Regions from separate parts of the Homo sapiens genome. Here regions 2 and 3 are each linked to region 1. Evidence: fine-mapped expression QTL. A gene starts in region 1. Each other region holds a variant in brackets. All regions are shown on one strand. Distances are between the middles of the regions.

Region 1 (10,020 bases):
GGGTCACACCCAGGTGTGTATGCTGTTCACACCACATATCAGCCCTGCGGGGTGCTTACAGCGGAAATTGTGCAGGTTCCTGCCCAAGAGGGACATGTAAATACATCTAGAAGTAGTTGTTATCTTCCCAAACAATGCAGTACATAAATTGAATCCCAGTGCACTCTCATCAAAACTCCTTGAGTGCCCCCACTTGCACCCAGAACATTTTTCAATGTCACTCTTTCAGTCTTTTTTTCAGTGTCTTTGACCTACAGCCCCTACAGTCATCTCCCACTGCTTGTATCTCTCTTTCCACCTCTTCAGCTGCCTTGCAGCCCACCTCACCTTGTTCACTATGCCCAGTCCGCTCCACCAGGGCTCTTCCCAGTACAGGGCCTTTGCAGGTGTGATCCTTCCCACCTGGACTGCTTCCCCTCCAGTTTGCATTTGACAAACCCCTCCTTCCCCTTCAGGTCTGGTGTTAAGTGTCAGCTTGTCCAGGAAGCTCCCTCTAGTCCTCCACTCTAAATCCTGCCTTCCTCGTGCGCCTTTTCAGAGTGTGCTGTGCTTTTCTTCCCCTGCACTTATCACTGTTTCTAAGTTAAGTACAATTTGGGGGTGATCAGTTGTTTTGCATCTTTCTCCCCTGCCAGAGTCTAACTTATATGGTAGGGACTTGTCATTGTGCCTATCACTATGAAAGGCACAGAGTAAATGCTCAGTAAATAATTGCTGAACTAATCTAAGAAATAGGTGAGAACTGGAAAAAAAAAATAACAAAGTCATTTGACTTAAAAAAATGCATTCTGTTTACTTTAAAACAGCAGGCTAGGAAAAACAAACAAACAAACAAACAAACAAACTTGAATGCTGGCTTATCCAGAAATACCACCTTGGCTTTCTTGCCCCGGACTTTTGTGCTATGAAATTTCACCAGCAACTGGTCCCTGGGAGTCTCCCTCAGACCTGGATGTCCAATGATGTGAACAGAAAGCAGAGATCACACAGGTTGACCCATGGCTCTGGTTTCACAAGGTCTATCCTGATTTTAAATTCTCAGGGATAGTTTTTAAAGCTAACTGATTTGTTTATGTGGTCCTGGTATCTTTCCCTGAGAGGCACTATGGCTATTTAGCGTTTTGAGAATCTCAAGTTCAGATGAGACCTATAAACAGAACTGCTGATCCCCCAGGCAGCAGGAAGTGAGGAGGACAGGGAAGCTCAGGGCCCCGCACAACTAATGTCCTGGGGCCCAAGTGCTGCATGAAGGGTTTTTGCCTCTAGGTTTTGAAAGTGTGTTTTGGTCTTCCAGTGTTCCTTAAGAAAATGCCCCTCTTCTGGAATAAGAAGAAATCCTAACGCAATGAGGCCCTACAAGTCAGTTTGACAGTGACTGGGAGCAGACTCTTTTGACAAACAGAAGGCTGGGTAACAGGGGGCGAACTATAAGGTGTCACTGTCTCCTCTGGTCTCCCAGCCCCATTTATCTGCACCTGTCCTGCCCCCATTTGTGTAGCTCTTCCTTCACAAAGACTTAGTCTGCTACTTAGGGGGAGCATGGCTCAGCTTGTTATCTCCATAGGGCACTGTGCATGGAGCTTCCCCAGCACACACACACACACACTAAAGCCATTACTTCTTCTGCGATGGATGTCAAAATCTCCAACCCGGTCTTCACAATAATCAGTCAAACTAAAACTCATGAGTTCAGCATTATCCAGACATATAAAGCATCTGAATATTTGCCTGGACTCTACTTGCTTTTAATTTCTTCTTTAAAAAATCTTTCCGAGCCCTGCATATTGCATTCAGCCAGCCCTACCACCTTAGAAAAGTGAGCCCAAGAAACGTGTGCATTGAAAAGATGATGTTGTTAATCTCCAAAAGAGATGAGAATGATTTCATACTGGATGAGACGTTTAGAAATGAATATTTGAATGAGAGCCACAAACTGAGACCCTTCATGACTACAGTGAATTTGGATATCTCGCAGAGGAGATAATGCCAAACCATACACCGGACACACAGCTGGGATTCGCCAGATGCCCCAGGAAGGGTTTATTTAATTCATTCCAACAAATGATCCTATAATGCATTTATGCATTTAAAAGCACAGAGACACAAGTCCTCATATATGAAGTTGTTATGGTTACAGAAAGAAAATAAATATTTGTGCACACAGAGATAGCATGAAATCATTCTACAGTGAAAATAATAGCCTCTGGAAAAAGCTTTGAAAATCAGAGATGGTGCCACCACCAGACAACACAAGTGCTGGGGTACAGGGCAGCCCTCCATGCATCTCATAGCATTTGCATGGTTTGTGAGCCCCATTTAATGACATAAAATGAGGGCACTGAGGGAGGAAAAGTGAACAGACACACAACCCGAGAGCACATTGTTATTTGTTTATTTTGTACAAGTGATGTCATAAGCAAGGATTTTGCCTGTGTTCTAGATTATCTCCAATAAATAAATAACTATGTACAAATATTTTGAGTTTACAAAATAGAAGAGGAAAACCTTTGTCTTACAAAAGTTACATTTCTATGATACATTTATTTCCATACACTGAAGCAGGATTTCATTCCTAGCTTAGCTGAACCAAAGACCTTGCAGACCCTGTGTGGCAGTGTCTAGAGCTGTGTACCTAGCCTTTTCTACCAAAGAGCAAAGCTACACAAAGAAAATTCCTCAGTTTCTTGAAAATAAGGGCCTGACTTGGCCTGCTACTTATAACTGATCTATATTTCATGTATTCCAGAAAATTGGAAGCAGTCTGGAATGGTTGTCCTCAAATTACTGAGCAGACACACCCCCTGCAGATCTTGTTAAATATAGATTCTCATGAACTGGATGGGGTGGAGCCTAGGATTCTGCATTTCTAACCAGCTCCCATGGGCAGGGCAGCTTCCAATTCTTGTTCAGGGGCCACATTCCAAAAGGCCTCTCTGAAATGGTAGAAATTCTCTGAGGACCTGATTAAGGCTAGGCCCTAATTGGGCATCCTCCAGGATCCATTCCCAAGCTCCCAATTCCACAAGACCAGTAGAGCTGGTTTTATTTTGGTCTACCAGTGACAAGGAACAGTGACAGTCAATTGCTAATTGGCATGAATCATGCAGTTTGAAGCTTTCTTGAACTGTCTCCTGGGAGGTGTTTGTCTCTTCTCTCAATCTAGAGCAACCTTCTGAACATTTTCAACACTGTCAAAAATAAGTAATAATAACAAAAAAGGAAATTGCATAAGAAGATTAGCAACAATTACCATTTTTCAGTACAAATCAAAACAGCAACAAAATTCAGGCTCACTGTTTAAAAGTAAAGATAAATACCTCTTTGGGTGTAATTTCTATGACAGTCCAGCAACATCAATTTAATACCTTTTACATCTCAACCTTTGTTTAAAATTATTTTGCTCTGGGAATCTGAAATTTCAGGATAAATTAGCAAATCTGGTGAAAAAGCAAATGGCCATTTTTATTTTTAGTGTTTTTGTTTCTGTTTCATGTAGGGGTTCTGTCTGAGCAGACAGCTAAGAGCAAAAGAAGTAGGGTCAGGCACAGGTAGGGTGACTCAGGTGAGTTGGCCCAGTTCCTGGGAGGAGAAAACTAGGAAGAATGGGGAATAAGTGGGGCTTGCTTCATAAATGTGAGAGGGCTAGGAAAAAAAAATTCACCAAGATAGTTTACCTGTCACATGACAAGTGGGAGTTTGTAGAGAGAGAGAGACCGGAGAGCTGTGCAAAGTGGATACTGGAGACATACAGGTAAGAACAAAGGAAACAAACAAAAACCTAAATACTTAAAAAAAATAAATATTTTAGTCATCCCTAGCCCACGAGGTCAAGGTCTGCCCAGAAGGCTGCCGACCAATAACGCTCACCCTCCTGCGCCCGGTAGTGAGGACCTGGGACAAATCGCAGTCTGTGTCTTCGTTACAAAATTGCCATCATTGCCCAGTGGTCCAGTGACGTCACGGAAGAGGCCGAGGCTCATTCTCCTCCCTCTAATCACCCCCTCGCCAGTTAGCCATGGAATAGAAGAAAACAGCTTGGGGGGTGCGGGGAGGGTCTTCTCCAGCTGTAATGCCAGCTAAGGTGCTTTGGTAGCAAAGCTGGGGGTGAGGAGGCACAGGCTCCTGGACGGAGCCAGGCTCCTGGACGGAGGCCGCTCAGAGTCTCTGCGGCGTCCGCTCGGTCCGCACGTGCTGCAGCACTACCTCCTTGGAAGGGGCCGCGCACTTGTACTCCATCTTGGCCCTGGCGGCGCCCTGCTTCTTGCGCAGGTGGCAGAGGAGCGCCAAAAGCGCCACCACCAGGCACAGGCTCGCGATGGAGATGCCTATGAGCAAGCCCGAATGCACGAGCCCCACGGCCGGAGGAGTCAAGGTGGAGCCGGGCGTCGGGCTGGGCGGGGGCTCGCCAGAGCCGCTGTCGCCACCGTCCACCTTGCCGGAGTCACAGTCGGTGCCAATGTGGCGGGCAAGGGCCGAGTCGGGCCCGCAGATGCACTCGAAGGTACCGGGGAGGTTGTGGCACACCCCGGAGCAGAAGCCGCCGTTTTCGCACTCGTCGATGTCCGTGCAGATGAAACCGTCGTCCAGGATGTAGCCTTCAGGGCACTCACAGCTAGCCTGGGTGTTGGGGTCGCAGTCGGCTGGACAGGCAGTCTGGTTGCAAAACATCTGGCACCTGTGCGGCTCGTGGGGAATGGGCGCGAAGCCCTCGGCGCAGACGCAGAGGTAGCTAGTTTGGTTCAGGGGCTGGCACTGGTACTCGCAGTTGGCTCTGAAGCACGGGTCCACGGGCTCCACACACTCGCCGTCCACCAGGTCGTAGTTAGGGTAGCAGTGGCACTCGAAGCCACCCTGTGTGTTGACACAGCGCTGCGGACACGGACTGGGCTCCAGTATGCAGTCATCCACGTCCTCGCACCGGTGTTGGTCGGCCGCCAGCCGGTAGCCGGTCTCGCACATGCACGAGTAGGAGCCCGGCTGGTCGGGGTTGGGAACGCAGAAGTGCTCGCAGAGGTCGTTGCAGGACTGCGTCGCGGATGCGGTGCAGGAGCGCCCGTCTGCCTGCAGGGCGGCGCCGGCTGGGCACTGGCAGCGGGGAGCCCCAGGGATCGCATTGCACGCGTGCTCGCAGCCGCCGTTCTCCACGCTGCAGTCCCAAGCGCCCGGCGCCTCCCTGGCCCAGTGCCCCTGGACCGCTCCGGGCGGCGCGGTGCACATTAGCTGTAAGCCGAGGGGAGCCACCGCGGCGGAGCTGCCCACCGGCAGCGCCTGGAAGTCCGCTCCGCGGGCCGCGAACGGGGTGCCGTAGGTGATCGAGACGGCGGCAGCCGCGGCGCCGGGCTCCACAGCCAGTGGCCTGCAGGTGGCTGGGAAGTGGAACTCGCAGAGGAAGCCATCGGCCTTCACTTCGCACTGCTGCTCCTCCCAGATCGGCTCGCTGGGCACAGTGGCCTCAGCAGCGGAGACAGCGACGCACAACGGGCCGCAGAGGGGAGCCCCATTGAGGTCGAGCCGTGCCCACCTGCTATAGCTGGTGTTGTTGTCTCCCGTAACCCACTGGAAGCCGCGCAGGGGCCCGAGGCGCTTGGGGTCGCCGCAGCCGGGTGGCAGCTGCAGGCCGATCCAGAGGCGCCGGCGGCCAACGCCGCCGTCGCCGTTCAGTAGCAAGGAAATGACATCGGCAGCCACCGAGGAGCGCACTGTCATTAGGTGGCCCCGCAGTCCGTCGCAGATCTGACTGGCATTGAGGAAGGTCGCGGGGCCCGGGTAGAGCGCGAAGCAGTCGTGCTCGACGCACTGGCTGCCACCCGGCTGCGGCTCTGCGGGTGCGGGGAACCCCAGGCCGGCCAGGGCCAGCGCGCCAAGGACCAGGACCCCAAGCATGTTACCCAGGCGCGCCGCGTGCAGGCGCCGGGGAAAGCGCGGGCACTGCGACAGGGCCGTGCCGGAGCAGAGGGGCACAGGACGCCGATGGCGACAGCCTCTCCTGTCCGTCCCAGCCCAGACACTTCTTGCCGCTGCGCGCAGCCCCTGCGAGGCAGCCTCTGACATGCGGATCGGCCAGGGCTCGAGTTTATAAGTGCCCGGCCCTCCCTCCCTGGACGTTCGGGAAAAGGAAGGAAGTGCCTGGTGGGAAGGGCTGATGCCGCATACTCGGATTGCTGGGTTCTCTGGCCGCCCTTGCGCCCGCCCTCGCGCATGGGATCACCTCGCCGGGATGAGTAAACCCTGCCCTGGCGCAGGGAGGTTCTCGGGCGGGGCCGACAGGGGCAGGCGCCAGGGAAGGCCAGCACCCCTGTAACAAGACGACTGTCCCCGCCCACCACTCGGGCCCCCACGCGTGCAGCCCTCTTTCATCTCTTGGTCCTCCTTTCTTTCTTTTCATACATGTTACAGCCACTTCCAAGGAAAGCCTGGATTGCAAGAGCTCTGGGAACCGGAGACTTCAGAGAAGAGGGCTTTGAATGGGGAGTGGGGGAGGTGGTGCACAGGACCTGCAAGACGCTGGGAGGGGTGATCGGCACCAAGGGCACTTTGGGAGGACCTGCCTAGGACGTGGACTTCCCCGAAGACAGGATCGCAAGGAGAGACAGCTGGATCCTGTCCGCGGCCAAGGTGCCTGGCTCAGGAAACCAGCGGAGCGCGCTTGGCCTCACAGGACAGTGGGTGTGGCTGGGGTGACGGGGCAGGGTGGGGAAGACTGGCCTAACACCAGCGCCCTCTGCCCCATGGCTGGCCAGGGACCCGCGAGTCCCTGGACACGCACTGGCCAACGCCAGACCCCATCTCATCGGGTGGGGAAGTCGCGGGGACACTGTCAGGGCGCCGAAGTCCGGACCCGGCTCAGAGGCGGTGGCAGGTGAATTGCTGCGGCGCCGGGTAGGGGCGGGCGCGTGGGAGCGAGTCAGCCTGGCCAGTTTCGGCCCAGCTTCCGAAGGATGGTGCTTCTTGCACCCCAACAGAGTGGCTGGCAACCCCCCAGGGGAGCGCGCAGGATCCCAGCTGATCCCACCCGGGTCGGCTAAGGAGGTTTCCATTTCGTCCAGAGTCCGAATTGATACCCACGTGCATAGAAACGCCACTTGCTCGGCAAAGGGCACTGAAGAGCCACCGTCCTGTGGATGGGCAGGGTGGGGGGGGGGCTGGAGGAGGACATGGGAATCCGTCACTTTCGACCTCTTCCGGTGGTTCACTTACCGGGAATGCGGAAGAGTGGGTCTCCCCCTCGGGTCGCCCCCATAATGGTGAGAGGCAAACTGTTTAAAAACACCCTTGCCTCTCTCCTCTACTGTCCTCACAACGAGCGCCAGGGGGCGGCGCTGTCGAGCTCTAAACAAAGCCAAGGAAGTTGGAGAAGTTTCGGGCTAAAAAGGGTTAAGGTGTAGGAGCACAGAGTCCTCCTTCTGGGGTTGGAAGCTCCGTTCCCGGGCAGCTCAGCGTGGATTCCGCTGCGTTCACCTCTTGCCTCCAGGGCCCAGTAGATCCTGGGCTTTAAACAAGAACAGAGAGTATGGCGTCTGCCACGTGCGACAGACACGCACCGGTGGGGTGGGCCGGGCTGGACTGGACTGACCTGCAGTGACCAAACGGGTGGGGCGTGGACACTCTGAAAGTGAAAAAGGCAAGCACGACTGTCCCGCCGCACACTCCCCAGCGCCTTGGGGCAGAGAGCCTCCAAACGTCCCGCTGAGTTGAGCTCTTCGCTGGGAAGGCCGCCCCAGCACCCAGGAAACGAAGGAGCTGCTGGACACGGGGGTCTGAAGCTCCCGGAATGCACACAGCTGCGCCTCCCCTGACGCGGACCCCCTGGGAAGAGGAAGGGAAGAGCGGCAGATAGCACAGTAGGGCTTGTCCGGCGGGAGCAGTCAAGCTGTGGCTGCCTAGGCTGAATCAGGGGGTCGTGACTCCGGTGCACAGCCTGCCTACGCGGGACGCAAAAGCAGGGCTGCCTGCGGTGCCGCCATGGGGGTGAGGGTGGAGCTTCAGATAAGGGCAGGAACCTCGTTGGGGCACTGCTGAAAGGTCTCAGAATGTGGGGACAATTCCCAGAGTGAATGAGACAAGAGAGGGGGACAGGATCGGTTACAGAATCAGAAACCAGTGCAAAGTGAAAATGTGGGGTCCATTGTTCAATTACAAGGATTCAAGACTGTGATAGCAAAGTGTTAAACAAGGAATGAGGCCCTGGGGGGGTGATGAGAGGGCCCTTCTGAACCTGCCAGCCCTAAAAGCCACTGAGGGACATTCAAGGATCAGATCTCACCCCACACCAGGCTGGCTGAGTTCTTGGATGGATTCTAGCTGATTCACCAACACAATGTTTCACTGGACGTCCTACACAGGTCCACTTGCACCCATTGCTGATTCTTGCAAAGAAAAAAAAAGTGTGAGAACAGCCCCAATAGCTGAGTCCACTAAGAACTCAGTGATGTCTGTGAAACTTGGATCAACCCTATATGAGGAGGTGCAGATGTTGGATGTTTCTGTATTAGAAAGAAACTAGAGCAACAACAGATAGAAGCAGAGCATTGTCCCATGGGGGGTACCACAGTGTCTGGGTTGCCCTACACAAGGATGGGTGGACATGACCCACTTGGCTTTCCCACCTGTAAGGGCTTTACCCCTGACCCTCAGGATACCTTTGCCTTGTGGGGCCTGCCCTCAGCCGCTTTGTTTTTCCTCTCCAGCCAATACCTTGGAGGCTTTGCATATTTTAGACTACCTTCTGGTGACTGAAGGTCCCCTGTCTGTGTTCTTGCCCCATCCCTATCTTCCTATCTGTGCCCCCTGCACACCAGGGTGGGCCACTCCTTCCTATCCCTTTGCAGATAACACATCCACTTCCCAATGCTTGGCCCAGTTCCTGGCCCAGCACCCTCACTCTGGCCCACCAGCAGACTTGCTTTACTCCTGAAACAGCTCCCTTGAAGAACACCCATCTGGTCCTAAATACTGTTGCCAAAATCTTGTTTTCAGCCATCCTTCTAGAAGCCTTGGTGCCATTTGCACTTGTGACCCTTCACCATTCTCAAGGCTCCTCCTCCAATTACTTTTGAGACACATGTTTTCCTCCCTTCCTCTCCTGTGAGCCTTGGGGAGGCCCCTGGGATCCTCTTGTACCACCCACTAGAGTGGCCATTCTCAAGGTTTTGCTGGTGGTCTTCATCATCTCTTTACAACCCACCTTTTGGTGAACTTACCCATTCCCCTGGCAGTGATAGCAGTGTCCAAGGAGATTGGGGAGGGAGTATTCTAGAAGGGACCCTTACCCCATCTTTCCCAGTATCAATAGTTGGTCCACTGAGGTTTTAAACCATGCACTTGCCTTTGACTTTCTGCTCTCCTTCATCCACTGCCTAGTTTTTGTGTCTTGTTTCCCCTGATCACTGCTCCTGCCTTCTCAATTTATGCTGAGACAGTTGGGTCCCCAGCTCTTTTCCTTGCTGCTTATCTCTCCAGCTCTCCACCGTGGCTGAGGCTACTCTGATCCTCATACTCCCTCAGTGCTGCTCCCACCCGCTGGGAGAGCCCATACTCTTTCCCCTCCGCACTGAAGATGCTCGCGATAGTGCCTCTACTCTGTGGCCACAGATGAGAAAATTTGCACTCAAGGGGCTATGCTGGAATTTGGACCCAGAGCCTGCACCCCTTGCACCTCACAAGGCTTCAAGGACCAGTGTTCTGCTGGTCTCCATGAATGAGGAAACATCCTGGCAAGGGAGGCTCCTGCTCACTGTCAGAGAAGCACCTTGTCCGCTCATCTCCACCCTGTAGTTCATGTCTCTCCCTCTGCTAGCAACATTCTCGTCTGCCAGGCTCTTCACCCACTGAAATCTTTCCATTCTTTCAAGTCCCAGTTCAAGCTTCCCCATCAGCAAGTTTTCTGAATAACCCAACCAGAACTGATCTGTCTGTGATTCCCATAGACAGGTCGTTCTCTCAGCTCTTTAGTACTCACCACTCCCTCCCTGCCCTGTACCTAATCATGCATATACCACACTTTTTGCTGCACTTATACTC
Region 2 (10,020 bases), 78 kb after region 1:
AGCAGGAGCCGACTTCCAGCGGAGAGCACTGCTGCTGAGACCTGCCTGGTGGTCAGCTTGGGCTGGTGAGCCAGGGCCAGGCACAGGATGGTGGGGGTGGTGGGGGCTGCAGAGGGGGAGGGTGGTAGCCTGGAGGACCTGCTGGGCTTGCAGGCCCCCACCTGTCCTGGGGAACTGAGCAGAGGTCACGACGGCAGGACAAAGCCCCTTCTGAGAGAAGGATCTGAATCCATTCCTCGCTTCCAGGTTGTTGTTATTTTTGCTGTGCTTTTGATGACACCAGCACTGCCTCTCTACGTACAGCTGATTAGCAACCCTGATGATGACATTTACGGGGTGTTCATATGTCAACTAGAGCATCTACGTGTTCCTGTGGTTTTGGAGCAAGAGTGATTTGAGTTTCAGAGATTTTTACTAATTCTTCTTCCCCTACCAGAAAAAAAGATCTTACCATTTGAGAGTGAGATGTAAACCCAGCCCTGTCTGACCTGAGTCTGTGCCCTAAGCCTATGCTAAGCCAAGCAGTGCCTGGAGCCACCACAGGTCCACACAATTCGTTAACATGATGAAGCAAGGATGGAAATTGGACAAAATAGTGTGCCTACTGAATCTAAGAATGAAAAATGATTGCACTCCTACTCTGAGTGCTTTGGAGCACTGCCCAGTTGGGCAAAGGGTCAGCGCCTGGGCAGAGGTCCCCACAACCTGGCAGGAGTGTGGTCGGCCACCCTATGGGCCTCCATCATGTGCAGTGACAGCGGGGCTGTCATGTCACCGTGTGGGAGGGCTTGCAGGTGAAGTGGTCTGGGAGGGGTCCCCCAGACAAAGCCAAGGTTCTGAGAGTTGGCCCGAACACTGCTGGATTCCACGGCGGGGGCTTGGGACAGCCGGACTCAGAGACAGTAGGAGGTGACAATGTATATACATCACAATGATCACAATATAGCCCCACACGTGCCTTCCCCACCAACAGTCAGCTTGCCATGTCCCTTCCCCGACATCCCCATCTTAGTCCCAACACAGAGGCTCCCTCTGCCCTGTGTCTGTTTAGCCAGGATGCCACGGTTCTTCCCCCTTCTCCCATGTCCTCCTCCACACACCCTTCAAGGGCAACCCCAGAGATTTCTCCTCCATGATTTCTAAAGTCAGTGGTAAATCTGTTCCTCTTTAAAATCTCATCACACTGTTCACCACTTCCCCTATAATACAGTTCCGCATGGCCACGTCATACAACCCTGTCATATTGGTGAGCAATTGCTGTGTAGCCAAAGACCCCAAAACTCAAACAGCATTTATTATTATTGCCCCCATGTCTGAGAGTCAGATGTGCATTTGCTGATCTCAGCTTGTTTGAGCTGCTGCAGGGTTGGGGCTCTGCTCCAGGCAGGCTTAGCTGTCACCACATGCACACATACATTCTGGGCCTCTGCTGTGCGCGTCACGTTCACTGAAGATCTTGGGATTGGGAGTTAGGGCGGTGGGAGGGCCCAGCAAAGTCACCTGGCGATGGCAGGGACACAGGGAGGAATGTAGAATGGGGCCGATGATGGGACCCACACGTCTGCAAAGCTGCGGTCTCCTTGAGGGGTGGAGACAGCAACAACTCACCGCACGCGGTGCTTCAGTTCACCATCTCCCTGGGACATTAGGGGTCCCCGTGTTATCTCATTTTGCTCTGGTTTGCATTAGTTTTTTATCACTTCGTAGATGAAGCCACTGACACCCAGAGAGGGAAAGTGGCCTGACCAAGGGCCACAGCAGGGGAGCGAAGGAGCCCCACAGTCCGGCAGGAACACAGCCTCTCCCTGGCTTTCAGGTTCACTGACATCTTCTCATGGCCTCTGTAACTCACCAGGCATCAGGGTGTAGTCCTTAGACCAGTGTCCCACAGCTGCCACAGAGTGGGAGCTCACCATCAGTTATAAGTCACTAGAAAGGCTTTTGGACATTATAAGCTACAATGGAAAATAAGTCATCTGTGGATTTTTGTGACAGATTCCAAAAATTTGAATATTTTGTCTACTTAGGTTTTTGGTTAATTTTATCCTCAAAACTGTTCTGCAGTGATTAAGCTGTACAAACTGCACCATGGGCGAATTGGCATATTCAGAAATGACTGATATTCTTGATTTCAGTTTTTTACTTTGTATGTAGCTCCTCAAGGAAACATCATGTAACTTGATTCCCTGGGAAGGTCCAGTGCATGGCACGCATGGGCCAGAGGCCACTCTCCTCCATCCGTAGACCACACGTGTGGACAAGCCCCCAGCATGCCTAGAGGAGCAAGGCCAGGGCTGTGCATGCTGAGGCGCCCGTGGCCAGTGTCAACAGGAAAAACTAACTCCGCCAGTTGTACACGTCAGCCAGGTGTGGGGTCATGCATTTCTCAACCCTCGGGGACTCCTCAGGATGGGATGGAAGATGTGTAGGTAGATTTTGAAGAAACTGCAGATGGTGTTTCAGAGAGACGGTAGAACCATCCATCTCCACTGTAGCCCAGGAATAAAACTGTGCAGCTTGACATCCCCTCTCCCATTCAGGAATAAAAAGGAACAAACAACTGATACACACAACATTTGAATCTCAGAATCACTATGTGGAGTGAAATAAGTCAGATACAAGAACATCTGTATGATTCCAATCACATAGAATGAAAATTAACCTCTAGTGGCAAAAAGCTGGTCAATGGTAGCCTGGGCCCAGGAGTGAGAGGGGCCTGTCTGCCAAGGGGCACGGGGAACTTTAAGAGGGAGCAGAGATACACTGTGGCGGTGCTGCCAGGGCCCCTTAATAATGCACTGTGAATGTGCGCTTTGTGAGACAAAGTAGTAAACATAGGAAACCACGTTTGCTCATTTGTGCTTGGCAGCAGAATTTCACAAAGTGCCTGTCTCTATAACGATGTGCAGCTCCCCAGAAAGATGCTCTGAAGACAAAACAGGATGGAGCACACACCCTCTCCGGACTCTTGCCTGAGTCACTATATTCTTTGCAGATAAATGGCCCTGGTCTTACCTTTTCCTACACGTAAGATAACATCTGACAGGGTCAGTGATTATTGCTCTGTAATTGAATCCATAACCTGATGCACTCTGACACCCAAGCTTTCATGTGACTTTGCACGTACTGGACCTCCCACCTATATGTCAACTGTGACCTGAAATACAGAACCTCAGTGGAGGCTGCTCCAGGGCTCTACGCCACAGCCTGTAGTCCTCGGTAAGCTTCTGAAGAAGACGAACTTTAATTCTTTAAAAGCTTGACAATAACTTTAAATGGATATGATTTATTGCCTGTAAATTATCCCTCAATAAAGTTGATAAGGATAAAAAGAAAAACTCTGTGATCTGGACACAGAACGAGCAGCCCTGGGTTATCTTTGCATTCTAGAAGGGGCCTAATATTTGTGTTAGTAGCAACAGCAGTGATGGCTGGAAGCCAGATTGTGCTTACTTGCACCAGGTGCTGAGCTGGGCACTGTATGCATCGGAGGAGGGGCATGGTGGCATGCTAATAGACCTTTATTTACAGTAACAGGCAGTGGGGTGGGTTCGGCCATGGACAGAGGTTTGCAGACATCCCAAGTTAAGGCACTCTGGCAGGTGTGCCTGGCGGGTCTTGGGAGCTGGGCCTCCAGAGGTTTGTGCTGACAAAAAGGCCAATGACCCCTCCTCCTGGCATTCTTGTGGGGATGGATGTGATGGGGTGTGGCACACAGTGATCAGGCCAGGTAACGGTGACTGAGACGCAGGGAAAAGGTGTTTCATTTAAGAAGGGTCGAGGTCAGTCTCCCCTCAGACCCAGCTTCCCTTGAGCCAGCTCAGTCCAAAGAGCACGCTGCCCTTCCTTCCGCACACTGGAGCACGCAGCCCTGGACCCACATTTCTCAACAGGAGCAAAAAAAGGAAGTCGGGAAGAGAAGCACAAAGCCAGTGAGTGAGGACTGGGCTTGCAGCACCCCCAAGGGCTCCCCAGGGAGAGGGTGGTTAGAACATCTGTGAGATTGCAGTCTAGGGTGACTCAGTGGAGCAACTGTCAAAGGTGCTAAGCTGGGATTTCTCAAGGCCCATCTTCCCCAGAGCTCCTCCCAGCCACAGACCCACAAAGGGCCTCCCTCATGGGTCTCAGTTACACCAGCTTCTCCCCACAGCACCAACAATCCTGTCAGCTTCTTCCCAGGCAGCAGCAGGCCTCACATCCCCACCAAAAGGGACACCATTGTGATAGCCTGGGCTGCAGAGATGCACGCCCTGCAGGGACAGCTGTAGGTCTTGGCACAGATACAGTGGCCTGGGCTAATCTTGAGCTGGGCCTTTGCCTCCTGGGTTACTGATGAGAAGCTCTGAGGCTGAGGCCAGTGGATGCCCCCCAGACCTCTCCACTCTCCCCAAGCACCCAAGGCCAGTTCTATGACTGTCCTGGTGAGTGCCAGATGCAGGGAAAG[T/C]GGCCCCCTGTGTGGGGCAGGTGGCTTCTGCATTTCTGATTAGGGGGCCAGGAAGGAGGCATTCAGGAGAAAACACCAAGTCAGAAAAAAGGTTCCCAGGACTGGGGACGAAAGACTCAGAAGGAGGGGAAAGAGGAAGAAAGCTGTAGGGGAAGGGAAGGGAGGGGGATGAGAAAAACGCTGGGGAACACCACTGAAGTTACTTCAAGCTAGCAACACTGGACGCTCAGGTCTTCTGTTGCATGGGTTACCGGGTTACATGCCAAGGGCTCAGTGGCTGCCTGTGGCTGGTGGCTCCTGTACGGGACAATGAAGATACAGAACTCGTCCATCATCACAAAAAGTACTACTGGACGGCACTGGCAAAGCCTAACCACATGTAAACTTTACTCAGGACATGAGGGGTTCCTGGCCTTCCGCCCCCACCCCCGGGAGCCTGGGGCCTTGGGTTTAGGCTGTCACTCAAACCCAGGGTCTCCCCACCTCGCCACTGTGGGCATTTGTGGCCAACCACTGCCTGTGATAGGGACTGTCCTGGGCACTGTAGGGTGTTGAGCAACAACCAAAACCTATCAGATGTCACCCAGTGTCACCCTGTTGACAGCCACTGCTCTAAATGGAAACAATGTGGCTTTGGGGTGAAAGGGGACCTGGGGGAAGTCTGGATCTGTCTCCAGAGCTTGGAGCTCCCGTGGGCCTGGCAGACGCTGGGGGTCCAGGGTCACAGGCTGAACCTGAGATGTTCCAACAGGAGGGGCCTGCCTGAGGGCCTGGGCTCAGAAATGAGGGGGCAGGAGTACATGCAGAGGGGACCCCTGCCTAGGGAGCTCAGGTCCTGCCTTGCAGGGACCTGAGGGGCCAGGCTGGAGGGAAGAAAAACTAGAGACCAGAAGATTCTAGAACACCAGATACAGCTATAGCAGAAGGCAAGGGGACTTAGAGTGATTTGGGCACTAGGATCAGGGCTGATGCGGGAGGGCAGGCAGGAGTGCTGGGGGGTTGCCTTGGTGGGGTTCGGGGAGGGGACTGAGCTGGGGTCAGGGACAATCAAGAATTCCTGGAGGGCAGCAAAGTAAAGAGGTTAAGCTGAGAGGCAAGGAGGCATCAAAGGAAGCGAAGAGGTGGGGACCAAGGGGACCCCAAGGAGTCAGGACTGAGGGGGCTGCCTGAGTGGGAGAAGAAAGGAGTCTGGGCCACAGGATTCTGAGGAATCTCACTCCTGAGTTGGGACCAGTGGGAGCCATGAGCCTGGGAAGAAAAGGGGCCCTGATGCGGGGCCAGGCCTGGGCTGGAGATCAGAGCCAGCAGGCCTCACGGAGCAGGATGTGAGCAGGGGGCACAAAACGCAGGGAAACCCAGGGGCTGTGGGCCACTAAGGGCTGGGGACAGCACATCAGGGCCCTTGGCCTGGCCGAAGCACAGCCAGGAGGTTTAACTCCAGGTGGAGTGGGCAGAGGTTGGTACTCGGGTCACATGGGCATGGCAGTTAGTACATGGACCCGGAGATGCCTGGACTGGGGCCTGGGCACTGGAAGTTAGAATGGGGGACTTTGGTAATGGGGATTGGCCAGGGAGGAGCTGGCATCGAGGGGCCACAGGAGACAGAAACTAGGCAAGGCAGCTTGACCTCGGCCCGCTGGGAATCAGGGGTCTAGGAAAAGGAGGAGTTTGGCGTGAAGGTGAGAGGCACGGGTTCCAGGGCACATAGCCCTTGTCAAGGGTGGGCCCATGGCTGTGGAAGGGAGTGCTGTGGATTATTGGACACTGGGCAGGGAGAGGCAGGGTCCAAGACAGCCAGGCTCTGCCTTGGCTGGGGCCTAAGTAAGGGTTTGGGGACCCAAGAGAGGTCTGTAGGCTGGAAATGAGCTGGACAGGCCAGAGTTACAGGGCCTAAAGCCTGGGAACAGTGACCGGGCTGAGGGATGGGGCAGGCTGGCCCTGGGAGGCCGAGGGGTCCAGGGGTTCCATGCACTGCAGGTCACCCTGCTGCATGGATAGATGGTGAATGTGGTTTTGGCATGGGCAGTGGCACAGCGGGAAGAAGACTGTGAAGCCAGCAGCAGGGACAGCCACGAAACCCTCAGCCTGCTCAGCATCTCCCCCTTTCCTCCGTCATCCTGGTTGGTGGCAGCCCCTCCGCCTCATCTCTGCATGGGGTGGGGGGGTAACTTTATATTATGAACTAATCATCATGAGAACCCCATAAGGAAGACCATATGGTTATCCCCCTTGCACAGATATATTGAGTCACTTACCCAAGATCACACAGCTAATTAACACCAGCGCCTAATTCAAACTCAGGCAGCCTAGTTCTGAGGCAGCGCTATTCAATCAATATGCACTTAGGGAACAGGCGGCCAGGAAGTGCAGGTGGGCCCCACCCTTACCCCTGCTCTGTGCTGAGGCCGCTGCCGAGCTGTCTATTCAGAGTCAGCTCCTCTGGTGCTGGAAGATGCTGGCACTCAGTGCTCCATCGCCTCTCAGTGAGCTGATCATGACAGGAGAATGACAGAAAATGACCAGGTGTTGCCACCCACCACTGTGAGGCTGGTGGTCCCTGTCCCTTAGAGAGGGCGAGCTGGGCTCATGGGGATGCAGAGGCAGCTGCCCTTTCCCACTGGGTGACCCTGGTGGAAATCTGGGAGCTGAGGGTGTGGACTGCCTGCAGGGAGGCCTCACCTAATACCTCTAATAAAAGCACCCCTCGTGTGCCGGGCACTGACCTGGAAGTTGGAGTGACTCACTTGAGGCACCAGAAATGCTCGCTGCAGTGCAGATGTTAGGACCTGGGTTCAGAAAGCAGATCCCTAAATGAGCCTCTGGGGTCCACGGCTTCTGGTCCACGTGCCCACGGCTTGGTGAGGTCTGGGAGGTCTCCCTGAGGGAGGCAGGACTTGAGTGGGACCGTGAAGGGCAGAAATAACCTGAAAAGTGGGGACAAGGCAGAGGATAGAGAAATGGAGGGAGGGAAGGCCTCCCAGGGCACAGTCCTTCTCGGAGGCCCCGAGACATGCCTTCTCCCCAGTTACCCTCCAATAAAGGGAATGCAGCACCACAAGAAGACTCAGTGGCACCATCCCTGGCTGCAGAGGGGCCACCCAGCTGCTCACGGTGTCCTCACTCCATTCTCATTCTTTGCCTAATGCTGATGTCTCGCATGGAATATTTTTCTTATCTACTTTGATAAGACATGGAGGTCAGAAGAAAATAGTTCTCAAACCAGAGTTGGCCTAAAACACTACACAGGCTGTAAACCACAGATTTCCTTCTGCATACCATCCCTGCTTCCTCTTCCCATCTGACTGTAAGGGAAAGCAGGAACTCCAGAAAGGGGTCTTTGTAACACACTTCCAGGAGATTTTTCTGCAAGTGGTCTCAGGCCACACTTCAGGAAACAGACTCAGACCATCAGCACTGGAAGGAATGGTGGAGTTTGGCCAGCCCAGTGTTTCCAACTGTGCGGATAAGACCCCTGCCGGGATGACCCTGGGAGAAGAGGTGAGGGTGAGCAGGTGCGTGGGTGCAAGGCCCCTTCTCAACCCAGGCAGGTCAATGTTATGTTTATGTGTTTTTATAGGGGCTTCTGGTAGTATTAGGTATAAGAGGGGTTTCAATGCTTTTAAAAAAACAAAAAGGCTGCAAACCACAAATCTCACCCTACAGTGTCACTCATGGACAGGGCCAGCCGGGAGTGTGAGCAAGACACAGGGCCTTGATGTCAGCCAGACTGTGGCCTGGGCAATGGGGTTGAACTTTCCTGAGACTCTGGTCCATAAAAGGCAGATAACACCTTCCACCTTGGCCTCCAGGGGACAACCCATAGGCCCCCCCGGGGTCAGTTCCCTTCCCTAGTCCAGGACCAAAGGGAAGCCATTTCCCAGTTCCTGGCCCAGGCTCAGTCCACCAAGTATGGTGGGAAGGCAGAGGCACGGAAGGCTTTAGCGGTACCCTCCAGGTGTTTGGGGCATAGCTGGGGTACAGCACGCAGCCTGAGCCCTGTTGAGGCTGCTGAGAGCTGACAGAGTGGGCTTTGCAGGGAGACAGACACGGTGGGCATTCTGAGGAGGTGGACTATAGCAGCAGGCGGAAGCAGGGGGCCTGGAACCAGGAGTGGAAGAGCAGAAGAGTTTCGAAGCAGTGCAGCCTTCTGCTGGGTGTTTTGGGTAATTCTGAAGTTGGGCGTGGACAGGAGGGATGCATGAGGCTGGGCACCCCACACAGACATGGGGCCTAAAAATGCTGGGAATGAGAGTCACATCGGAGGACCCTCCACAGCCCCCGGCACTCATCCAGGCAGTGATGCCTCCAGTTCACACCCTGGGTGGGGGGCAAATGTTAGTATCGACCTCCCTGAAAAGTAGCAAGGAAGGCTTTTTTCTTTTTTTTGCCAAAACTTGCATAAGACTTAGAAAGTTCCAAATGGCTCTTCTTGCTTATCCAGCGCTTTTGGCTGCCTGTGACACACTGTCCCTGAAGCACCAAAATTTCATAAGAGCTGAGGATAAAACCCAAAGAGGGCCACTCTCCAAGTCACCCAACATCCCAGACTTCACACTTCACAGGGTGAAAAGAATGTAGTCTTCTAAACATGATGCAAAGGTGTTAGCAAACTCAGAAGGTCTAAGTCACAGCAAGATTTTCTTTTATTCCACTTCCCTGCCAAGGATTTCAGTGGAACAAAATAAACCAGACCTCCAAACAGCACGACTAAGTGTGAAAGATTCAGTTATCTTTAGGTTTCTTCAAGCAGTATTTGGCAAGCCGCTGTTTTTGGATCACGTATTTTCCACAATAAGTCAATAGATATTCCATTCAAAAAAAGAAGCAAAATGAGTTTGAATGTTTTGTCAAATTATGCTTGAGCATAGCTGTATACTTACCCTGGCTTGGCAATTAAAATATTTATTAGCATATTAAATTCACAAACAACTATAAATAAAGAAACCTGGTTTACTTAAAAGCAGTGTTGTCCATTGGAAAACATGGCATCATGCTATGGATTGAGTGCCCTGTGTAATCCGTAGAGAGCTCACTCTGGATGACTTAAGCTATATTTGAGCACTCTGATTTTCCGTATCTTGATCCAGATGTTTGACATCTCAAGAGGCATGGAGGCCTGGTGTGGTGGTTCAGGCCTGTCATCCCAGCAATGTGGGAGGCTGAGGCAGGAGAATGGCTTGAGCCCAGCAGTTTTAGACCAGCCTAGGCAACAACCTGAGATCCCAACTCTACAAAAAATAAAAAAAATCAGCCAGGCGTGGTGCATGTGCCTGTGGTCCCAGCTACACAGGAGGCTGAGGTGGGAGGATCGTTTGATTCTAGGAGGCTGAGGCTGCAATAAGCCATGTTTGCACCACTGCACTCCAGCCTGGGTAACAGAGGGAGACCCTATCTTTAAAAAAAATTATAATGAAAAATAAAAAAATAATTTAAAAAAGGGCATGGTGTAGCCTGTGCTACTGAAGGGTCCTTTATCTCTGTCAGCCATTCCTAAAGTCCACTAGAGAATAACAAAATATTCTTTTTCCACCAATTGGTATTTATTTCTGTGATAACTGAAGAATTCCGCCACACAA
Region 3 (10,020 bases), 28 kb before region 1:
ACAGTAGATTTTCTTGAAGCAGATGTGCACAGCAGCATCAGAGGCTCTGCTCCTCATGGAGTGGGGCTACCTTCAGGCAGTGTGCCCAGAGCAGCAGATCAGAGGCAGGTCTGCACTCACATTCTTACCCAGTTTTAATTACATGTAAATTAAAAAGCAGAGTATGCAGACATTTCTAGAAAAAGGATGGTAAGTTTTGGATCATCTGCTCACTGCCATGGAAAGGGGTGGTAACCTCTGGATGTTGCCATGGCAATGGTAAACTCACATGGCACACTGGTGGATGTATCTTAGGGAAAGCTACTTCCACTCCATCCCTGTCTTAACTAGTCCTCAATGTGGTCTGACATCTGAGACCTATCTCCAGAATTGAGTCCCACCTCCTACCTCACTGGGGCACACTTTATTATCCAGGGCCTTAAAGATGTGTTGTTGGCTAGTTCCCTCCCCTTTATCTGATCGGGCTCATCCTAAAAGGGGCCTCTTCAGAACCTGCTCTTGGGCTCCCCTTCCCCAGGCCTCAGGTGTGTGGCCCTCAAGCTGAGGCTGCCCATGGCAGGCTTCTGCCTGGTCCTGGGCTGATCTTGGTGCCCGAGCAAAGCAGTTCCTGCAAATGGAGGCCTAAAGGTCCCTCCTCCCATCAGTCTGTGTGTGGAGTTTCTAAGTTCCTGCGGAGACCCAGCTAAAGCTCAGCCAAGGGCCTATTACAAAATCCCCAGGGATCTGAAACATCTCAGAAAGTGTTAAATTTGACAGACACAGAGGAGGTGATATGATATGCCAGGCTCATACTACAATGAATGTTCATATTAAATCCTCATAACAAGTCTATAAGCACAGCTTCTAAAATATCTACCTTCTAGATTAAAAACAACAACAACAACAATAAAATCATAGGCACAAATATACACACTGTCTGGGCCAGGGTCACAGAACTGGTAAAGACACCTAGGATTTGAATGAGCATCTCTTTCCAAAGTCTGTATTCTTTCTCTCTACCATGCTGCCACAAAACCCACAAGCTTTTAGATGAATTGCAATCCCCCTCCACCTACCCCCACCAAGATCCCACTATTCAGTGAGGCAGCAGGCTTCAAGTGCAGCTCAATATGGCCCAATTGCTGAAAGAGTGTTTTGTAAGAAATAGTTCAGGAGGAATTCAATTTCATAAAGACAGGCTTCTTCATAATCAATGACGTCTGAATAACATTTTTATCTAAAAGTATACTCTATTCTGCTGTAGTTCCTTTCTGATAAAACTGAGTATGTCTTCCATTCCACGTTGCTTTGACATCTACCTATTTGCTGAGTGCCTGACATTATTCTAATAACTTTACTCCAGGCATTGTATTTTTAAAGTTCTCCAATTTCTATTTTTAATCATTTCTCTCTCTCCACTTAGAATTTCCATCTTTTTGTTTATTATAAGCATGTCTTCCTTTACTTCATTGAGCATACAGCCAATAGTCACTTTAACATCCTCACCTGCTGATTCCAATGTCTGGGTCCTCTCTCTTCTGTTGTCATCTTCCTGGTGCTTCATGTACTGAGTAATTCCGTATTGTCTTCTGGCATTGTGGTCAGAATGCTGTGGAGTGAATTATCCTCTAAGAACAATGCTAATGGTTGTTTATTAGCTTGCTTATTTGTTTTAGCTGGAAAATAATTCAGCTGGGCTCAAACTGGAAACCCTCTTTTTCAGGGAAGAGAGCAAATGCAGTCAGCTCCCTGATCCTCAGCTGGGTGCCTGGCGCCTGCTCTGTGCCTGTGTGGCTCAAGGGTTGGTCAGGGAAGCGAGCAGAGTTCATGCACCCCCTCTCTGGACTCCTTTTCTCAGGATTCTCACTCCCTAGCAGCTGTGGTCCTCTCAACTTTGACCTCTGGTTCTTCATGCCAGTAAAGAGGCAAATTATTGATCAGGGTGTTAACTTCCCAGAGTGGCACAGACCAGGGCCTGCCCTTAGTTGAAACCCTGAAAAAATTGGGCAGCTCACAGCAGGTCATTCCAAGTATTGTCTCTTCCAGAACTGAAAAGCTCCTTTCCAGACCTTTCTGCAGGCCCCCGCTGACCACTTAAACGTCCCCCTCATTTCAGCCTCATTGCTGCCCTGCAAGGAGGGGAATGCCTTAAAGATCATACCCATTTTACTGAAGGGGAAACATAGCTCAGAGAAGAGAAGTTATGGCTTCAAGATAACAGCTGGCAAATGTCAGCCAGGAATCAGACCTGGGTCAGCTGGACTCCCATGCCCACATTCTTATTCTTTCGGCTGTGAAACCATCCTTAGCTGCTATCATAGTTGTGTTTGTTCAGCAGTGGTTTTGAACAAGCTATCAAAAGAAGCTGTGCTCTGGAATGCAAAGTGAAGAGAGGTGCTGAGACATGGGGTGGGGGGAGGTGCTCAGAAGGCTCTGAAGGGAACACAACCCCCCTCCATCCTTCGCTCAGAAGGGAACACAGCTGCAGCTCCCCTCTTTTAGTTCTAACTGGAGAGCAAGGCAGAGACCCTTCACAGATGCTGAGAGGGCTGGGAGGGCTAGCCAGGCCACCTGTGACCTTTTTAGACTTGCAGAAAGCAGGAACAGAGAATATTCTTCAGAGTGCTTGGAGGAAGAATGCAAACCTCCTTAACTGATAAGTGTTGAAGAAACCTGGATACTAGAGACCCCTGTGCTTCCCTGGCCAGAACGAGCCTCTTCCAGCACCAGAGGGGAAACGAGTAGTACCTGCCACAAACCCAGAGCCCAGGGAGTAGGCCAGACAGGGAGCCAGAGAAGAAGCTGACTGTACTGGTGCTCATGACAAGCTTAGGTTAATTTCCCAAGACACAATAGAGAGGAGGACATGCCTGCATTATATGTGGGCAGGATCAGGATGAGAAACCGGCGACACTGCAGAGAGAAGGGGTCAACTCCCTGTCCATCCCTACTCACTCCAAAAAGATTCCTAGGCCTTGGTCAGGAAATGATTTGACTTTTCTGGAAAACTCATGCAATCTGACTCTTCTAAGAGACTGCATGAACCCTGGGTTGTCTGAGTTTGAAGCCCACTCCACTGTCTATCAGCTGTGCTGCCTTGGAAAAATCACTTCACCTCTTAGGACCTCTATTGTGTCATCTGTAAAATGTGGATCATAATAGTCCCTACCTTGCAGGGGAAGGGAGAAGTTGGAGGATCAAATCAGTTAATATGTGTAACACTCTCAGAACACTGCCTGAAATATAAGATGCACTAAATATGTGCTAGCTTCTATTATTATTTGTACTTAATACTATCACTGCTGCTATTAATATGCCTGCTACTGCTATTACTACTACTGTTGTTGTTATTATTACTACTACTATTACTACTGCACCTGTTGCTATTATAATTATTACTGTCACTACTGCTGCTGTTGCTATAATTATCACTACTCCTATTACTATTGCTGGTATTGCTATTACTACTACTACTACTACAATTATTATTCATGAGGAGAAGCTGAGTGGCTGCAAATGCTTTCTTAAGCTCTGCATCAATTCAAAATAGACACAGACTCAAAAAACACAGTGGTACAGTTGTCAGATTTAGCAAATACAAACACAGAATGCCCAGTTAAATTTGAATTTTATATAAGTAGTGGTTTTTTAGCTTATGCAATAAACTAAAAATAAGTAAGCTCCAAACTATCGTCTCATACAATATTTGGGACTTATTTATCCTAGAACATGATTGATTGTTTACCTGAAATTTAAATTTAACCAAGTATCCTGTAGTTTGACAACCCTACTTGGGAAGTGGGTGGTGACTTGTTCCTTGAACACCATTGGCCTTGTGTTCTCGACACACACAGACACACACACACACACACGCTGGCAGGAGGCTT[C/T]GCTCTGGACTCATCTTTATAAGGGCAGCGTTCCGGGCTGGGTTTCTAGAATCAGAACGTGGGCCAGCATTCGTGTTCATTGGACGGTAAGGGAAGAGGGTGGGGATGGGGAACAGAGCTGAGCCAGGATGAGCCCCACTGCATGACGACAGCATGAATGACCCCCAGAGTGGGTCTCTCCAGGAGACAGGAGAAAAGGACCCGCTGTGGGTCCATGTCACTCATTGCAGGGAGCAGGGGAGTCTTTCTGGGAAGGTGGCTCTCCTTGGTCTGAAGGATCATGATACCTGCAAGCTGGCTCCCCCATCTACCCTAGTAACATCCAAAGGCACCCCCAGAGCTGCAAGGAGTTCAAGAGCCAGGCACCACGCCATGAGTGCCACTCAGTGGCTGTCAGTGCAAATGCCCAGCAAGACCTTCTGGGACAGGATGCAGCAGCTGCAGCCTGGAACCTGCTTTCTCCTGTGAACAGAGGCAGCCTGAGTGGAGGAAATAGCCCTGCGCTGCAAAGACTCGTTGGCAGTGACAGTCGGTGCCAGGGGCTGGCTGCAGACAGTCGTTCCATGCAGGGATTTGGCTGAGGCAATGCTGACTCGGGTAAAAGGGCTTTATGCTGTTCAAGGGCTCTTGACAAATCGCCTGTATCTTTTTAGAATTCTGCAATTCATAAGCGCAGGTTATTTTGACAAAACTTAGTGTCTTGGTTGTCAGATTCAAGAGAAAAAGCACAAAATTAAGGCTTATCGAAATATGCAGAAAAACACGTTGCCCAAGGCCTGAACATGGCCAGTCATGAGATGCCTGTGACAGATGAGAAAGCACCTGTCATTTCATGTTGAATTTTTGAGGAAGGCTTATTTCAATGAATTACATTTTTTTAAAAAAAAAGATTGCTATATCTTGCAGTAAAAAACACTAGACTTTACCTGCGGTAAAACACTAGACTCTAAAGCTTCTCCTTCCCACCTGCACGGTGGCAGTCAGATAATCAGATGCTCAGAGACAGGTTCCCACAGTCCCACAGCCCACATCTACTCAATCCACAGCCCTCATGGCACCCTCCTACCCAGGAGCACCTGGAGAATGTCCTGATGCTGTATGGGGCTGAGGGAAGTACCTGCGGAAACACAGCACATTTCCCCAGAAGGCTGCAGAGGTCTCTGCTACTCCGTGGAATCCTAGAACCCCAGCTCTGCGAAAGGGAACGAGGCCTATGAACTACTCACAGGAGCTAATTAGACATGCAGGAATTTACTTAATTAAATAGTTACGTATTGAACAGATGGGCTGTTGTCAGAGGTATTCGAACCAGAGCGACTCCATCTTGAATAGGGGCTGGGTAAAATAAGGCTGAGACCTACTGGGCTGCATTCTCAGAAGGTTAAGGGGTCATGGGGTGAGATAGGAGGTTGACACGTGAAACAGGTCACAAAGGCTTTGCTGATAAAACAGCATGCAGTAAAGAAGCCAGCCAAATCCCACCAAAACCAAGATGGTGACGAAAATGACCTTTGATTGTCCTCACTGCTCATTACATGCTAATTATAATGCGTTGGCATGCTAAAAGACACTCCCACCAGCGCCATGAGAGTTTACAGATGCCATGCAATGTCTGAAAGTTACCCCATATGGTCTAAAAAGGGGAGGAATCCTCAGTTCTGGGATTGCCCAACCTTTTCCCAGGAAACCCATGAATAATCCACCCCTTGTTTAGCATATAATTGAGAAATAACCATAAAAACAGCCAACCAGAAGCCCTCAGGGCTGTTCTGCTTATGGAGTAGGCATTCTTTATTCCTTTACTCTCCTAATAAACTTGCTTTTACTTTACGCTATTGATTTGCCTTGAATTCTTTCTTGAGTGAGATCCAAGAACCCTCTCTTAGGATCTGGATCAGGACCTCCTTCCAGTAACACTATGGGCCAAGCAGGGTTTTAGACAGCAAGTCTGTCGTAACAAAAAGATCTCGGAAAATAGAGTGTGGTTTGTAGCTATCGTTACTGACAGTCTTCTCTTGAACACGGTCACAGAGTTCTGGAAACTTAACACAAACAGATATTTTTAAGAAACTGTGTTATTTCTAACAGTTGTGTTATTTCTAATAACTCGCAAATAAGTCATAAACATATCTCAAAAGAAAAGTATACATGGGAGAAGTCAAATGTGGACTGGGAGGGCCTCCATTGTGGCCCTTTAAAACACAGACAAGGTGTTGTAGCACAGCAGTAAGCTTTTCTGGAGGCATTTCCTTCAGGCTCACCACCCATTGTTTGGAAGGAAAAGTGAGCACATTTACCACCCCTGGCAGAGATCTAAGGTCCTGATTTCAGCCCACAGCACTTCAAGCTAATCAAGAGACTCTGGTATATTGCACTGTTTATACATCCAAAGCCACACCTGTTATAGTGAAGCCCTCTGTATTATCTTAGTAACTTGTATTTGCAGAGGAGGAAGAGCTTTAAAATAACAGCCATTATCTTGTGTATTTGGCATCTCCAAAGTATTGTCCAGATCTGCACATTGTAACAATGCTAAAATTACCAGGAAAGATAGGCATCTCCGTAATACCTCAGAGTTGCTCAGTGAGGCAGGCAAAGCAAAGAAAAGGGAAGGTAGTGCCTCCCCTAAGTCCAGGCAGCCTCACCCATGGCAGGACAGAGGAGAAGGCACCCTGCAGGACAGAAGAAAGAGTATCTTTTTGATGGTGTAAGTCTACTGGAATGCTAATTGCACATGTGGATTAGACACTATTTTTACCACCCCCCCCCAAAAAAAAAACCCAGGTTCTTTTGCTTGGCAAGTAAGAAATCAATCTCCTTGAGACTGTAGGTTTGATCAACAGGAGTTTTATTACTTGGCACAAATAAGCATGCTGTTGGGAGTACTCTCCAAAGCCATGTCTCCCTGAGGGAAAGTGACAGGAGGACTTCATGGGGAGATGGAGAGAAGAGAGGACGCGTCATGGCATGTGGAGGAGGAGCCTCAGTGGTGCAGACACAGCGAGTCATCACACCAGCACATAGGTTGCATGTTATGGTGATGAAGCTGTGGCTCATCCCAGGATGGAGACACTAGCATGGTCATGAGGAAAGTTCACTCGGGTTTGTCTATAAGCTGCTGAGGTCTACTGAGAGCTGGTTCCAAGCAATAAGACAACTGCATTCCACACAAAATGCAGGGCAGTAGGCTGTAAAACACGCTGATTGTTCAAGGCGATTACATTCCTATAATCACTCCAGACCCTCTGGAGTGGAGAATCATCTCTGTCCCATAAAAGACAAAGAACTTCACTTGAATCCTCCAAAGATGGTGACAGGTGGATGTCAAAGAAATGTAGGCATGGAGATTGTGGGGTTTGCTCTGGTACCGTTGGTGCCAGTAGGAAGGGAAAGAGGGGATGTCGAGTTTCCATCCCAGGGGGCAGCAGTGAGAGAAGGAACATGCCTGGGGGCAGTGGAGACCCTCTTCAGACAGACACCAATGGCCAACCAAAGTCAGGAGCACTGGTTCTCAAACCGAAGCACCAGCAGAAAGAGACCCTCTCTTTCTGTTCATGCTGTCAGTAGACTGAGGTCTGAAAAAAAATTAGAGCTGCCTTTGCAATGATTTCATCAACAGTTGAACAAGTTAAATGCATTGCTTTGTCCTATTCGGTTGTGTCAAAGAATTAAAAGGTAAAGATGAACCTCTAAATTTAACATTTTATTTGGGAAGAAAGAATTGCAAGACCACATATTGGGTGGTTTTCGGTGTGTCTAAAGAACAAAGAGATGGTTGGAGGTTTTATAACAAAGAGAAGTGTTATGTATTGCTCTTTGAGAAAGTTCATTGGCACTAGTACAGTTCCGGTGAGGTGGCAACTTTTGATTGGTAAGTAATGGAATGGGTATAATTGGTCTTAGAGTTGCAGCAGGTCATTTTAGCAGCTATTAGATAAAACTGGTTTCAGGTTACAGCAGCCAGGCTTGCAGAAAATTATATTCTTGGAGCAATGTTATGCATCCTGAGCACCTTTCCCTCTTGGCTTCTTGGCGGTTTTATTTGGATATGATAAGAATGACCCGATTTGTATGATCAACTTTCACAGTTGTTTCTTGTGTGTCTTTCTGGCTCTAAGCATTTCTAACACCTTAGAATAGCAAATATGGAAGAAAAACCAGCAAAACATGATACTCTTTAGTCAGCAGAAAGAAGAGAAAATGCAGAATGCTCATGGACATCTAGCTCCAGTGATGGGGGCTGAAGGGAGCTGAAGGGAGCACCAGCAAGTGAATGAGGGGTGAGGGGTGAGGGGTGGGGGACCGCAGGCCCCTACTCCATCTTTCTCAGCCTTTCTTTTTCATTCAAAAGACCACTAGGATGGCTAAATAGTAGAAAGGAGTATTTTATTGGTGAAGCCATCCTCACAGGGTTAGCAAGAATTCTGGACAGAAATAGAGTTATAATTAAGCATTAATCAGCCTGCACTTTGACCCACTTCCTTGTAACTGAAAGTCATGCAGCACTGATACTGACCACTGGCATCCCTATTGTTCCTATGAATAGGATTTCTGATGTTAGAATCATAAGGCTTTTGTTTAAGAACTGCCTAGGGTGTTTTCCAGATCCCAGATTCCTACTAAACACCCACCAGCATGAAGACCCCCATAGAAGAACAGAATCAGCATGAGAAACAGTTTCACCACTTCCCCATCCCATGACTTCACCCTGCACTTTTCAACCAACCAACCGTCCCCACACTTCAGCCCACTCCAAAACCGTTAACATCCCTTATACCAAACTCCTCGGTGTAAGGTTCTTGTATCGGTTCAAACCCCCAGAGCACGCCAACAGACAACAGGAGGCAGTGTGGAGCAATATGCTGTTCTAATGAGTGCCTGCGTGCAGGCAGGCTGAGGCCTAAAATGGAGTCAGCCCCAAGTGAGGACGGGGCATAGGTTTTACAGTCTCCTGTAAACAGGAAGTGTCCTAGTATAATGTAACTGCTACATTGTACACAGACGGCCTCTTTCTCGATCTTCAGGGGTACCTGTCTTCCGGCCAGGGTAGGTGTCTTCTGGCCGGCTCTCTTCCTGCTTCTGCTGACTTGCTGATGCACGCTGCTGACACAAGTGGCCTTGCGCCCTGGGACTGGGCCTGAGAAGGGAGGAGTCATTCATCTCCTTAAGCTTTCAGGCCCCAGAGAGAATTGTACACTTGGAGAGATGGATTTAAGGTTCCTTCCCATCTTCTAGATCAGGGTCCTAGGATTCAATCTCCTTCTCTTTGTGAATTGGTGTCTTGGCGGATTGACTAGCCCTGTGCCTCGTTCATGGATTTATTTCAGTTACACTGGCAATATAAGTTTGCAAACCAGGAAGAGACTGTCTCCAGCATATGACATTGGCGCTCTCTCTTTGAAGAGGGAAGGGGCAGAATGGATTTTATGTCTCACAGGGCCTGTATCACACGATAGAGTTACATGTACTCAGTAGGTTTGGGGGAAAGCTATGCATGTGGAGAGGGGAGGTGAGCACACGCACAATAGGCACAGATGTATTACCATGCATTCCGTGCTCCCTTTGGGGTGGGGTTTCAGCATAAAAATAAGGTAGAATGTGGCTTTTTCCATCAAAAAGTGAACTGTAGGAGACAAACACAATGTGTGCCCAGTCTCTGTAAGCTGCTGGAACTGATTTGACGTCTTCAGTTGCTTATCAGAAAAGAATGTTTCTAAGGTCCTCTGTCCAATCAGAGTTGTGGTGGTCTGGGTTGTAAATCGGAGGTAGGAATTTGCCTGATAGCTCTTATTGTTAGGGAGTTTAGCAAGGGTGTGCTTTTCTTGTAGCCCTAGGAATTTAAGGAGTTGCTCCACCAGAGAAGAAAACTTTTCTGTTTTCTTAACCTTAAAGTCCACCTTAGTTGATAAAGGGCATCTATTTTGGTCTCTCCGATCTCAGTTTCATGTGCTACATTGCAGTATGTATGAAAAGAAACAATTGTCTTTATCATTTCATTTTTTTTCTGATTTCAAGTATAGTTCATGCTTGTTACAGAATATTTGGGGAAAAGCAGATCTTTTTAAAAGAAATACTACCCATCATCTCACTACTAAAAAATAACTATGTTAGTTACTAAAATTGTTCTTCCTATATGTCTATACGCACTTTTGAA

The links. PIP is the estimated chance that this variant, and not a neighbour inherited with it, causes the effect.
Region 2: its variant is fine-mapped to the expression of THBD in whole blood (INTERVAL, PIP above 0.99).
Region 3: its variant is fine-mapped to the expression of THBD in whole blood (TOPMed, PIP above 0.99).

The regions. Positions count from the first base shown.
Region 1 is chr20:23,043,622-23,053,641 of GRCh38, forward strand. THBD (thrombomodulin) reads right to left here and starts at 6,051. Exons shown (of 1, transcript NM_000361.3): 1 at 2,012-6,051. The coding sequence starts at 5,883. The coding sequence ends at 4,156.
Region 2 is chr20:23,121,798-23,131,817 of GRCh38, forward strand. LINC00656 (long intergenic non-protein coding RNA 656) reads right to left here. Exons shown (of 4, transcript NR_034149.1): 2 at 7,168-7,368; 3 at 6,832-6,932; 4 at 3,271-4,741. Among named protein-coding and RNA genes, the nearest start is that of LINC00656, 5.8 kb to the right of the region's middle. The variant T/C (reference allele first, on the strand shown) is at 4,445.
Region 3 is chr20:23,015,271-23,025,290 of GRCh38, forward strand. LOC101929707 (a long non-coding RNA gene) reads right to left here. Exons shown (of 4, transcript XR_937352.2): 2 at 1,486-1,588. Among named protein-coding and RNA genes, the nearest start is that of SSTR4, 15 kb to the right of the region's middle. The variant C/T (reference allele first, on the strand shown) is at 3,867.